3 linked regions of the Homo sapiens genome follow. The protein of the gene in region 1 purifies or fractionates together with the protein of each later gene. This does not show direct contact. Each region holds a gene or a part of one and is shown on either strand. Other genes may lie near its edges. The genes, in order: FBLIM1, DCLK1 and KIF18A.

What was found.
Region 2: the proteins of FBLIM1 (region 1) and DCLK1 purify together in Homo sapiens (affinity purification with mass spectrometry; one large-scale study listed by BioGRID and IntAct). This does not show direct contact.
Region 3: the proteins of FBLIM1 (region 1) and KIF18A purify together in Homo sapiens (affinity purification with mass spectrometry; one large-scale study listed by BioGRID and IntAct). This does not show direct contact.

What each region holds. Positions count from the first base shown.
Region 1 is NC_000001.11:15,768,727-15,772,383, reverse strand, and holds part of FBLIM1 (filamin-binding LIM protein 1), read right to left. Parts: intron 1,976-3,657; coding exon 1,806-1,975; intron 1-1,805. UniProt on the Homo sapiens protein: Serves as an anchoring site for cell-ECM adhesion proteins and filamin-containing actin filaments. Is implicated in cell shape modulation (spreading) and motility.
Region 2 is NC_000013.11:36,110,755-36,114,411, forward strand, and holds part of DCLK1 (serine/threonine-protein kinase DCLK1), read right to left. Parts: intron 1,462-3,657; coding exon 1,115-1,461; intron 1-1,114.
Region 3 is NC_000011.10:28,024,576-28,028,232, reverse strand, and holds part of KIF18A (kinesin-like protein KIF18A), read left to right. Parts: intron 1-3,657.

The sequences.
Region 1 (3,657 bases):
CCCCTCCTCCCCTGGTGTCTCACCCCTGAGGAACACTCCCCCATGATGTTGATGGGGTCACAGGGACACGGCAGGGAGGGCCTGGCTCCTCTCTCTTCCCACAGTGCCTCACTGGTGGTGAGCCTGGGATTGGATTGTTTGGATTCTTCTGGAGAGTCTCAGCTCCAAATACTCTAACCCTTCAAATCAGCCGTTTTCAAACTTCTATATGCATGAGAATCACTTGAGACACTGATTCAAAATGCTGATTTCCAGGTGTTCCTCATTCATAAGCACAAAGAGTGGCCTACACATCCCCAGGGGATGCGGCTGTGGGTGGTCACCACACTCAACATGCCACCACAAACCATCCAAGAGTTAGAAATTCCAGTGTGCTGGCATCCCAGCTGGCTCTCCCAGATTGCACTTGGTACCCGGAAGCAACACAGATTCCCGTGAGATCAAACATTGGAACCCTGTGGCTCTACTCTAGGGGAGATAGTGGCAAGACTGATGGCAGGCTCCAGAGCCAGATGGGTGTGGAGTAGAATCCCAGCTCCTTGGCCATCTCGTGTGACCTCGTGTGGTAGCTAAGAGATGCCCCCAAAGATATCCAGTCCTTATCTCTGGACCCCGAATGTTACCTTGCCCGGCAAAAGAGGCTTTCAGATGGGATGAGCTAAGGATCTTAAGATGGGGGAGATTATCCTGATTATCCAGGTGGGTCCTAAATGCCATCGCGTGTCCCTGTAACTTGACACAGAGGTGACAATAGGGCCGCTGAAGTGGGATGCTACACTGCTGGCTTTGAAGCAGAGGAAGGAGTCAAGGAGAATGCAGCTTCATAAACTGCAAAAGGGGCCAGGTGCGGTGGCTCACACCTGTAATCCCAGCACTTTGTGAGGCCGAGGGGGTGGATTCCTTGAGGTCAGGAGTTTGAGACCAGCCTGGCCAAAGTGGTGAAATCCCATCTCTACTAAAAATACAAAAATTAGTTGGGCATGGTGGCAGGCACCTGTAGTCCCAGCTACTCAGGAGGCTGAGACATGGGAATTGCTTCAACCCGGGAAGCAGAGGTTGCAGTGATCTGAGATTGTACGACTGCACTCCAGCTGGGGTGACAGAATGAGCCTCCATCTTAAAAAAAAAAAAAAACAAAAAAAAACAGGCTGGGCGCAGTGGCTCATGCCTGTAATCCCAGCACTTTGGGAGGTCGAGGTGGGTGGCTCACGAGGTCAGGAGTTCAAGACCAGCCTGGCCAAGATGGTGAAACCCCATCTCTACCAAAAATACAAAAATTAGCCGGGTGTGGTGTCAGGTGCCTGTAATCCCAGCTACTCGGGAGGCTGAGGCAGGAGAATCCCTTGAACCTGGGTGGCCGAGGTTGCAGTGAGCTGACATCGTGCCACTGCACTCCAGCCTGGGCGATAGAGTGAGACTCCGTCCCCCACCGCAAAAAAAAAGAAGAAGAAGAAGAAAAAAAGAAATTGCAAAAGGCAGAGATGTGGGTTCTCCCTCAAGCCTCCAGACAGCACACCACCTTGGTTTTGGCCCAGTGAAGCTGATTTTGGACTTTTGATCTCCCGAACTGGGACAGAATAAACGTGTACTGCTGGAAGCCACGAAGGTTGTGGTGATCTCTTACAGGCAGCCCTAGGAAACCAATCGCCTTCACTGGGCTCCTTCTTTCTGAGCCTCAGTTTCCTCATCTGTGAAAGGGGTCAATAGTGCCTACTTCCCAGGACTGTGTGGGGAATGAAATGGTGCAACATATTCTAAGTGCTCAGCTCACTGCCTGGCACCCAGAGGTCTGCTGCAGGGGTTACCTGGTAGCAGGGTTCGCAGAGGGGTCGCCCATCCTTCTGGTAGAAGCTCTGCCCAGCCAGCTGGCGGCGGCAGGTGCGGCACGTGAAGCACTGGGCATGGTACTGCCTCTTCATGGCCTCCACAGCCAGCTCTCGGGGGGACACGGTCTTGTGGCAGAAGGCACAGATGTCTGGGGTAGGGGAGACACAGGCCATCACCAGCCCAGCCTGTGAGGACTGTACCCAGGCACCACCCAGAACATGCTCAGGATACCCGAGGCTCTGTCTTAAACCCTGCAAATTCCTCAAATGACAAATACAGAGGGTCATGAGGAGCATTAAAAAGGAATCTGAGTCAGGCATGGTGGCTCACACCTGTAATGCCAGCACTTTGGGAGGCCAAGGTGAGCGGATCACTTGAGGACAGGAGTTCAAGACCAGCCTGGCCAACATGGTGAAACCCCATCTCTACTAAAAATACAAAAATTAGCCGGGCATAGTGGCATGCCCCCGTAGTCCCAGCTACTCATGGGGCTGAGGCAGGAGAATCACTTGAACCTAGGAGGCAGAGGTTATAGTGAGCCGAGACTGTGCCATTGCACTCCAGCATGGGTAACAGAGTGAGGCTCTGTTTCAGGAAAAACAATAAAAATTAAAAAAAATAAAGAGCCCGGCGCGGTGGCTCACACCTGTAATCTCAGCACTTTGGGATGCCGAGGTGGGCGGATCACAAGGTCAAGAGATCGAGACCATCTGGCCAACATGGTGAAACCCTGTCTCTACTAAAAATACAAAAATTAGCTGGGCGTGGTAGCGGGCGCCTGTAGTCCCAGTACTCAGGAGACTGAGGCAGGAGACTCGCTTAAACCCAGGAGGTGGAGGTTGCAATGAGCCAAGATCGCGCCACTGCACTCTAGCCTGGTGACAGAGCAAGACTCTGTCTAAAAAAATAAAAATAAAAATAAATAACATAAATAAATAAGGAATTCTGGACAGCAGTTTCAGGACAAAGGGATTGTTGGCTGCCTTGACCTCCCAAAGTGCTGGGATTACAGGCATGAACCACTACACCCAGCCAGGAGCCACTTTGTTTATTTATTTTATTTTATTTTTTTATTTTTTTGAGACGGAAGCTCACTCTGTCACCCAGGCTGGAGAGCAGTGGCGCAATCTCAGCTCACTGCAACCTCCGCCTCCTGGGTTCAAGAGATTCTCCTGCCTCAGCCTCCCGAGTAGCTGGGATTACAGGCACACACCACCACACCCAGCTAACTTTCGTATTTTTAGTAGAGACAGCATTTCACCATGTTGGCCAGGCGGATCTCGAACTCCTGACCTCAGGTGATCCACCTGCCTCAGCCTCCCAAAATGCTGGGATTATAGGCGTGAGCCACCACGCTCAGCCAGGAGCCACTTTATATTCTGATGTGTGACCAGCTCTGAGATGTACGAAGGAAAGAAAGTGAACAGCAGAAGAGCCTAGTTTGCTACTTATGGAAAAATGGGGGGAGGGAGCAGGTGGACACATATTTGTATTTGCTCGTATGTGCATAGTGTCTTTGGCAGGATACATGAGAGCTCAATGACAGAGGACACCCATCTGGAAGGAAACCGGGTGGTAGGGGGATGGGGCAGGTTGCAGGCTTCTCACTGTGTCCCCACTCATGCTGTTTATTTTGCACTGTGTGAGGGCATTAGGTGTTCAGAAAATAAAATAGTGAGAAAAAATTCAAGACATTTTTGCTATCATAGCAAACTGCAGACTAACATTTTAAATAGAATTTAGGTATAAAGGGAAAAAGGCTAAAGCAATACAAATTAAATGGATGCCGAACTACAAAGCCCATCATTGTTAACATGAGCTGGGGTGGGG
Region 2 (3,657 bases), on another chromosome or scaffold:
AAAGATAGTGTGCTCAAAAGTATAATCTGGTAAACTCTGAATGACTAGCAAATCATGCTGTACATATAATCAATTTTTTTTTTTTTTTTTTTTTGAGACGGAATCTTGTTCTGTCACCCAGGCTGGAGTGCAGTGGTGCGATCTCGGCTCACTGCAAGCTCCGCCTCCCGGGTTCACGCCATTCTCCTGCCTCAGCCCCCTGAGTAGCTGGGACTACAGGCGCCCACCACCACACCCAGGTAATTTTTTTTTTTTATTTTGAGTAGAGACGGGGTTTCACCCTGTTAGCCAGGATGGTCTCGATCTCCTGACCTCGTGATCCGCCTGCCTCGGCCTCCCAAAGTGCTGGGATTACAGGCGTGAGCCACCGTGCCCGGCCCTAATCAATGTTTTTTAATTCAACTCACCATCAAGGTTCTGTCAAACCTGTACAAAAATAGTCCACCCAAGACAATAAAAGGTGATGCTTCCTTTGGGTTCATCTGACCAACTCACATTAAAATGACCACCCATCCAAGTCAACTGATGTTCATTCTGTAGCTGAAAAACCTCCCTTTCATTTTAACACTGAAAAATACAAGATGCGTACTATTCTAGAAATATGCCTTTAAAGCTATCCAGATGGAAATATGTCATTTCTTAGATACATATTTTAAAATCTATAAAATGTAAGTAAATCTCACTAGCGAACACTACAAAGACTTAAAATCATAAAATATTTAGGTCAAAGAAATAAGTTAGAATTTTCCCTACTGGTCAGAGTTTACTTTCACACCTCAGTCATTCATTCTTCAGGCTATAAGATCTATGAGAAAACTGAAAACAGATGACAGAAAAGAATCATTATGTTAAGCAAATAATAAATGAACAAGTAGAAATCACTGAGTAATTATTTAATCTTCAAAGATATGCATTTTTTTCTTACTTTATTCCTATGAATAATCCTGCTCAACTCAAACTTCTGACTGTTCTAGGGCCAGCAAGTACATATTTGTTGATCAAGTGACCCAGGCCCTTTAACAACTTGAGCAAAATGTATGCTTTAGCCACGTACACCCTCCGACTCCCTGGTTCTTGCCTTAAAGTCAAAGTCACATCACAATATGTCTCTTACCTGTTTCCCATCCAACGTGTACAGGCGTTTCACCACTCCCGAGTCCAGCTTGATGGCATCGGTGATATCGGTGAGGACCTGCTCAAAGGAATGAGCCGTTTTCTTGTTCAGCAGAATCCTGACAGCTTTCCGTGGCTTCACGCCACTTCTGATGATGGTGACCAGCTTGGGCCGAATGAAATCCTTATTCTCTCGCACCTCTGAAGGGCTTCCTTTGGCAGTGGCCAGTGAAGACACTGCCCGAGAAGCCGAGGTGGTCTTGACGTTCACCGACCAGTTGGGGTTCACATTCTTGGTGTACTCCAGTTTCTTGAAGGGCTCTATGGAGCCACATACATAACTCTCTCCTAAGGAAGAGAGAAATATATTTAAATTTATACTAAAATATGCCCATTTCTTTTTTCCTACTTATCCTCTCTTTTGCCTTTTCTGCTTAGGGGCAAGAGCTAGCCCTGACTTTTCAAACAATGGAAGTGTGATTAATAATTAGGGAAAAAGAAAGATTTCTGATTGCTAATCTGGCACTGTCAGCAACAGATCCACATCCTGGAAAAACAAAACAAAACATTATTCCTCCATTTCCTCATCTTAAGGTCGGTGATAGAAATGCTGATCTACTTGAAAAGACCTTAGAGAAGTGTGAAAGTGAATTTAAAATAGAAAATATTCTTTGGGAATTAGAGATACTTAAATCTGCAGAAAATTTCAAAATTGGAAGTACCTCCATTTGCTACCTGAGATAATTTAAACACTAAGAATGAATCAGAATACAGCATCTTAAAATAGTCATATAATTTACGAATTTGATGAGAGTTGATGCTAAAGATTTTGTAAAGCCCAGTAAAGTTCCAAAAGCAAGCAAATAATCACCCTTCCTTTCTCTCATCTATATAGTGCCAATCACAGTGATCCACACATACTATAAGGTCAATTCATACTTGTTCATAAGTAAGAGGTTTTAGAAGTGTTCAACATACAAACTACAGCTTCAAAAATGGGCTCTAAAATAAATATAAGTAAATGTTTATTAAAAGTGACTCCTTAGCAGGAAATCTTTTAATGAAAATAATCAGACTATTAAGTAGATGTAGATCACACACACAAAAAAGAAAAACATGAACCAAGAGACAACAAATTGTAAAATGACGAATTCTAAATACATATTTCATAAAGTTAGGTCAAAGCCTTTTGAAATTAAAGATTTTGTAATGGCTTTTTTTCTGTGTTAATAAGTTTTTGTAACTAGGAATAGGTAAAAATGCTGAAAGACCTTCATAATTGTAGGTAAAATGACCGAGGCCTAATCTAACACAGCCCATTGACTTTTATCTAAGTCCTTGTATTATTTTTAAATTCACAGTGCAAGCATCCAAGGCCAAAGAATAAGTAGTCACATAAAAATAACTGAAGCAGGCCTTCAAAAGTTAAAAAGAGCAGTTATACATGTTACTGAACACTTGTTTTGCAGATGTTCTTAAAATATTCTCTAATGTGTATACATACACATTATGCCTCACTAGAAGTTGTATGAATAGTGCAAGTTTAACCAACCCCATTTCTATTCACCTGGCAGATCATGACTTGTCTCAGCTATGCCTTCCTCAGGATTTAAGTAAATATCAAAAACTTATATGTATTTTTGATATTTTCTTAAATCCTGAGAAAGGCATATTTGGGTACTATAGAAACAGCAGTGTTTTGGGAGTTTTCATGGAGTGATGACCTGCACATGATAGTGGGAAGAGAGAACTGGAAATTCGGGCTCAAGACCTGGCCTCTCCAAGCATGTGACTTTGGACAAGTCCCTCAGATTTCTGGGTGGTAGTTTATTTATCTATAAAACAAAACCTCATTAGGTTTTTCTGAAGATCAAATTAGAAGATAGAGATCAAAGTGATCTCAAATACAAACCTGCTATGTGAGTGAAAATGACCTGAGGCTACATACCCTAATCGTGCAGTAAGCCTGAAAGAAAAATTCAAAAACAAAATTACTAGAAATCGGTAAGCAGGTCTTATATTGAACAGTTACCAGTGGACACCACGTTGGGTCCATGTCAATGTGAGAATGCCCTAACACTCCCCAGTGAGACACACAGCATGTAACTGAGCTGGCAAAGCTAGCCTCTGTCAGAATTCTGTGCTAACTGAAGATATGCAATTGTCTGATTATTTATAAGTTTCTATACTAAGCTAATAACTAAAAGCAAAACAAAGATACAGAGAGCAGTTTACATTTCAACAAAAACTTTAAAAATATATTAAATTAGAAGAGGGAGCAGTTTTAAAGAACATAGCAACATGGAGTGAGTTTGTTAAAAGAGAAAATAAACACTTTTTAAAAATATCTTCTTAGATAAAGCACCCTGAAAATGTTTAAAAGCATAAGAAAGTTCTCCAGTTACACTGAGAAGGCGTTGCTGGTTTGGTTCAAGCAACAATGATCAGAAGAAATATGTGTTTAATCTGAGCTGTAAATGTGAGGCTCCTCTGCTGGATAATCAGATTTAAAGACTGGAATGAGAATCTTAGAGAAGGATGTGA
Region 3 (3,657 bases), on another chromosome or scaffold:
AAAAGAATGTATATTCTGTTGATTGTGGGTGGAGAGTTCTGTAGACGTCTATTAAGTCCGCTTGGTGAGAGTTTTTATCATAAAGGGATGTTGAATTTTATCAAATACTTTTTCAGCATCTATTGAAATGATCATATGGTTTTTGTTCTTCATTCTATTGATACAATGTATCACATTGGTTAATTTGCATATGTTGAACCATCTTGCATCCCTGGGATAAATCCCACTTGGCCATGATGAATGATCTTTCAGGTTTGTTATTGGATTCAGTTTGCTAGTATTTTGTTAAGGATTTGTGCATGTGTTCATCAGGGATATTGGCCTGGAGTTTTCTTGTTTTGATGTGTCCTTGTCTGGTTTTGGTATCAGAGTAATACTGGCCTCATATAATGATTTTGGAAGTATTCCTTCCGCCTCTGTTTTTCAGAATAGTTTGAGTAAGATTGGTATTGGTTCTTTTTTAAATGTTTGGTAAAAATCAGCAGTGAAGCCATCAAATTCCAAGCTTTTCTTTGCTGGGAGACTTTATTATGACTTTGATTTTGTTACTTATTATTCATTTGTTCAGGTTTTGGAATTTTTTCTGAAAGATAGACTGGTAGGAAAATATCCAAACTGATGTGCAGTATGATAAAAATATGGGAAGAAGTGAAAGAGACATGGGACACAATTTTTAAAAGTCTAGAAAATATGTATTTTGTGTCTCAGAAGGGAGTGAGAGAAAGAATAGGGAAAAGTAATATTTGAGATGATGGCTAATACTTATTCAAAACTAACAAAAGACATTAAACCATGGATTTGAGTAGCACTGCAAACCAAAAGCCGGGTTAATATAAAGAGAAACATACCTAGGTATATAGTAGTAAAACAACTAAAAACTAAAGATAAGGAAAAATCTTAAATATATTGAGTTATATGACTAGAAGTTCATGATGCATTCTTTATATCCTATAAATTGAATGCAATGACAAATATACTCAATAAATATAAAATGGATCTGACTTCCTCTACCTCTTTTTCTTTGCTATGTGATTATGGGGAGAAAAGTTTATAGAAGACCTTAAAATGACTCTTTTTAAATGTATTTTCCACCAGGAGCCTGTTATCATTTAAGTAACAGGAAGCGAATTTACAAGTAGCCTACTTATTTGTGCTACATAGAGTATCTTCTCATAAGTGAATTTAATATCTGTCCTTGTCCCTCCTAAACAAAGTATAACAGAGACTTGGAATGTGTAAATTTAAAATTTATGGATTTTTCCTAAATGTCTCATCTATGACATTTAAAATTTTATATTTGCTAAGGTACAAATTTGATTTGTACAATTATTCTGGTTTATATACAGAAGTCTGTCACTTTATGAGTGAGCCTAGCTAACCACAATCATCTGTTTCGTCTACTTTTATCACTAATTTGCATAGTGTCAGTTTTGTCATTTGTTCCATTAATTAATTTTAGTGAGTTTTCTTGTCCTTCACTGGTAGTATGTTGTGTTTACTAAGATGTCACAAATGTTTATAGATAAGAATAATTTTTAAATATGAACTTAGCTATTATAAAATCAAATAGTTTTTCAGGAAATGTCCAGGTATGTGAATTGTGTATTTGGAGTGATTTTAGATAAGTTAAAGGGCTTCCACATGAACAACTAATATTGTGAAATAATATTAAAGGACATGTAAAGAAAGTAACTTGATTTCTTATAGCCTATTAATTGTTCTATTACATTCCCTCTGGTACCAGTAATTAGATCCTGCCATTAACTAAGGTTAAAAGAGATTAATGCTAGAAATGTACATGATTACTTTTTTTAATCTTCTTTTTCCCCAATTAAAGTTACATGCGCTTCAGAGTAATAAACTGTGGTATTTTCCATTTAGCAGCTTTATATACATATTTAGTTGTGTATATATTCTAATATAGTTTTTAAAATAAAGAAGGGGAAGCTCTCTATATATGTATTTCATTTATTTTGCATAAAATGGCATTAGAGTTTGAAAGCACTGGATATTCCAAAACCTACCCAACAGATTTGTTTAAATAATTGAGTATATTAGATTTTTAATCTTAACAATTTATTTAATATTTCTCTAGCACACTATTTTACTAAATTGATTAGCCTATCAAATATTTAAATATAATGCATACATAATGTTAGCTTTTACTTCTCAATTATATTAATCAGAGTTTTGGATTGTTTGTTTTGTATTTGTTTGGTTGATTGGTTTTTTGTTTGTCCACAATCTTCTGAGCACCCCAAAGCAGTTTCATATTTGCCATACACTTTTATTTTGTTTTGAAAGATGTCTAATTATTTCAACTAGAAATTATTTCAGATAAAATAGTAGAAGAGGTATTATGTTGAGTAGAAACATTCTACCTATATAAGGGAGCAAAAGGTTAATTCTTAACTTTATTTATAGTTATGGGAATATGTTTTGTGCACAACTGGAAGTGTCTTTGGATTTTTCAGTATAGCCTTTAACATAATTTGAACTTGCGCTCATCAGTTTTAAGTCTTTGTAGTTTATGACCTACAACATAAATGTTAAACATTTCATCAGTGGACTATTTAACTAAATCGTAAACATGTTTGGGTATATTTTACTTTTATATAAATACGCAATTTATTAGGGTTGGATTTGATTTCTAGAAATATGAGTTCTAATCAAATGGCTTTATTCAAAAGCCTAATTTTCAAGAAAGAACATGCTATGAGTAAAAAGTAGGGTCCTGGAACTAGCCATAATGCATAATCGTACTATGAAATAATAAAGACAACTTTGGGATAAATTTAAGAAAAAACAATGTTTTATCAAAAGTAACTAATAATATTGATCTTTATATTTGAAAAAATAAAATCACCAAATGATCAAAAAAGAATTTCTGCCTTGGACAGCTGATATATACAAAAGTGTGTTTAATATGCAAAACAGAATCATAGTAATTTATCACCATTTAAGAAGTGGGGACTACTGTAGTTGATATAATATTTGTGCATACAAATTTGTGATTTTATCTTCTTAAACTGTGTCATTTTCATTACTTCCACTGAGTAGTCACCCCTTATTCAAGTTTTGCTTTCTGTGGTTTCAGTTACCCATGGTCAACCGCAGTTCAAAAACAGGCGATTGTAGAACAATAAGATATTTTAATAGAGAGCGAGACCACATTCACATAACCTTATAATAATTATAATTATAATTGCTCTATTTTATTATTATTGTTAATCTCTTACTGTGCCTAATTTATAATTTAAACTTTATCATAGATATGTGTAGGAGAATACATAGTATATATCCGGTTTGATACTATCCTCGGTTGCAGGCATCCACTGGCGATCTTAGAAGATATCCCCCCCGTCGATAAGGGGGATTACTATATAGTATCTTTATTAGCCAGAATTTCCCTAAGCTTAGGTTGTTTGAATCAGCGTGGAAGGATGTTCTTTTTCCACCCAACCCCCCCCAATCCTACCTGTTAAAAATTGATCCTCTTTAGGACTAGGAAGGATTGCTGTTTTTCAGGACCCAGATCAAATTCATTGCATCCACAAAATTTCCATTATTCTTTCTTACTCTACACTCAAGAATCTATAGCTCCTTGTATTATGGAAACCTTGGCACTATATTTTTACTTTACCTTATATTATTTCA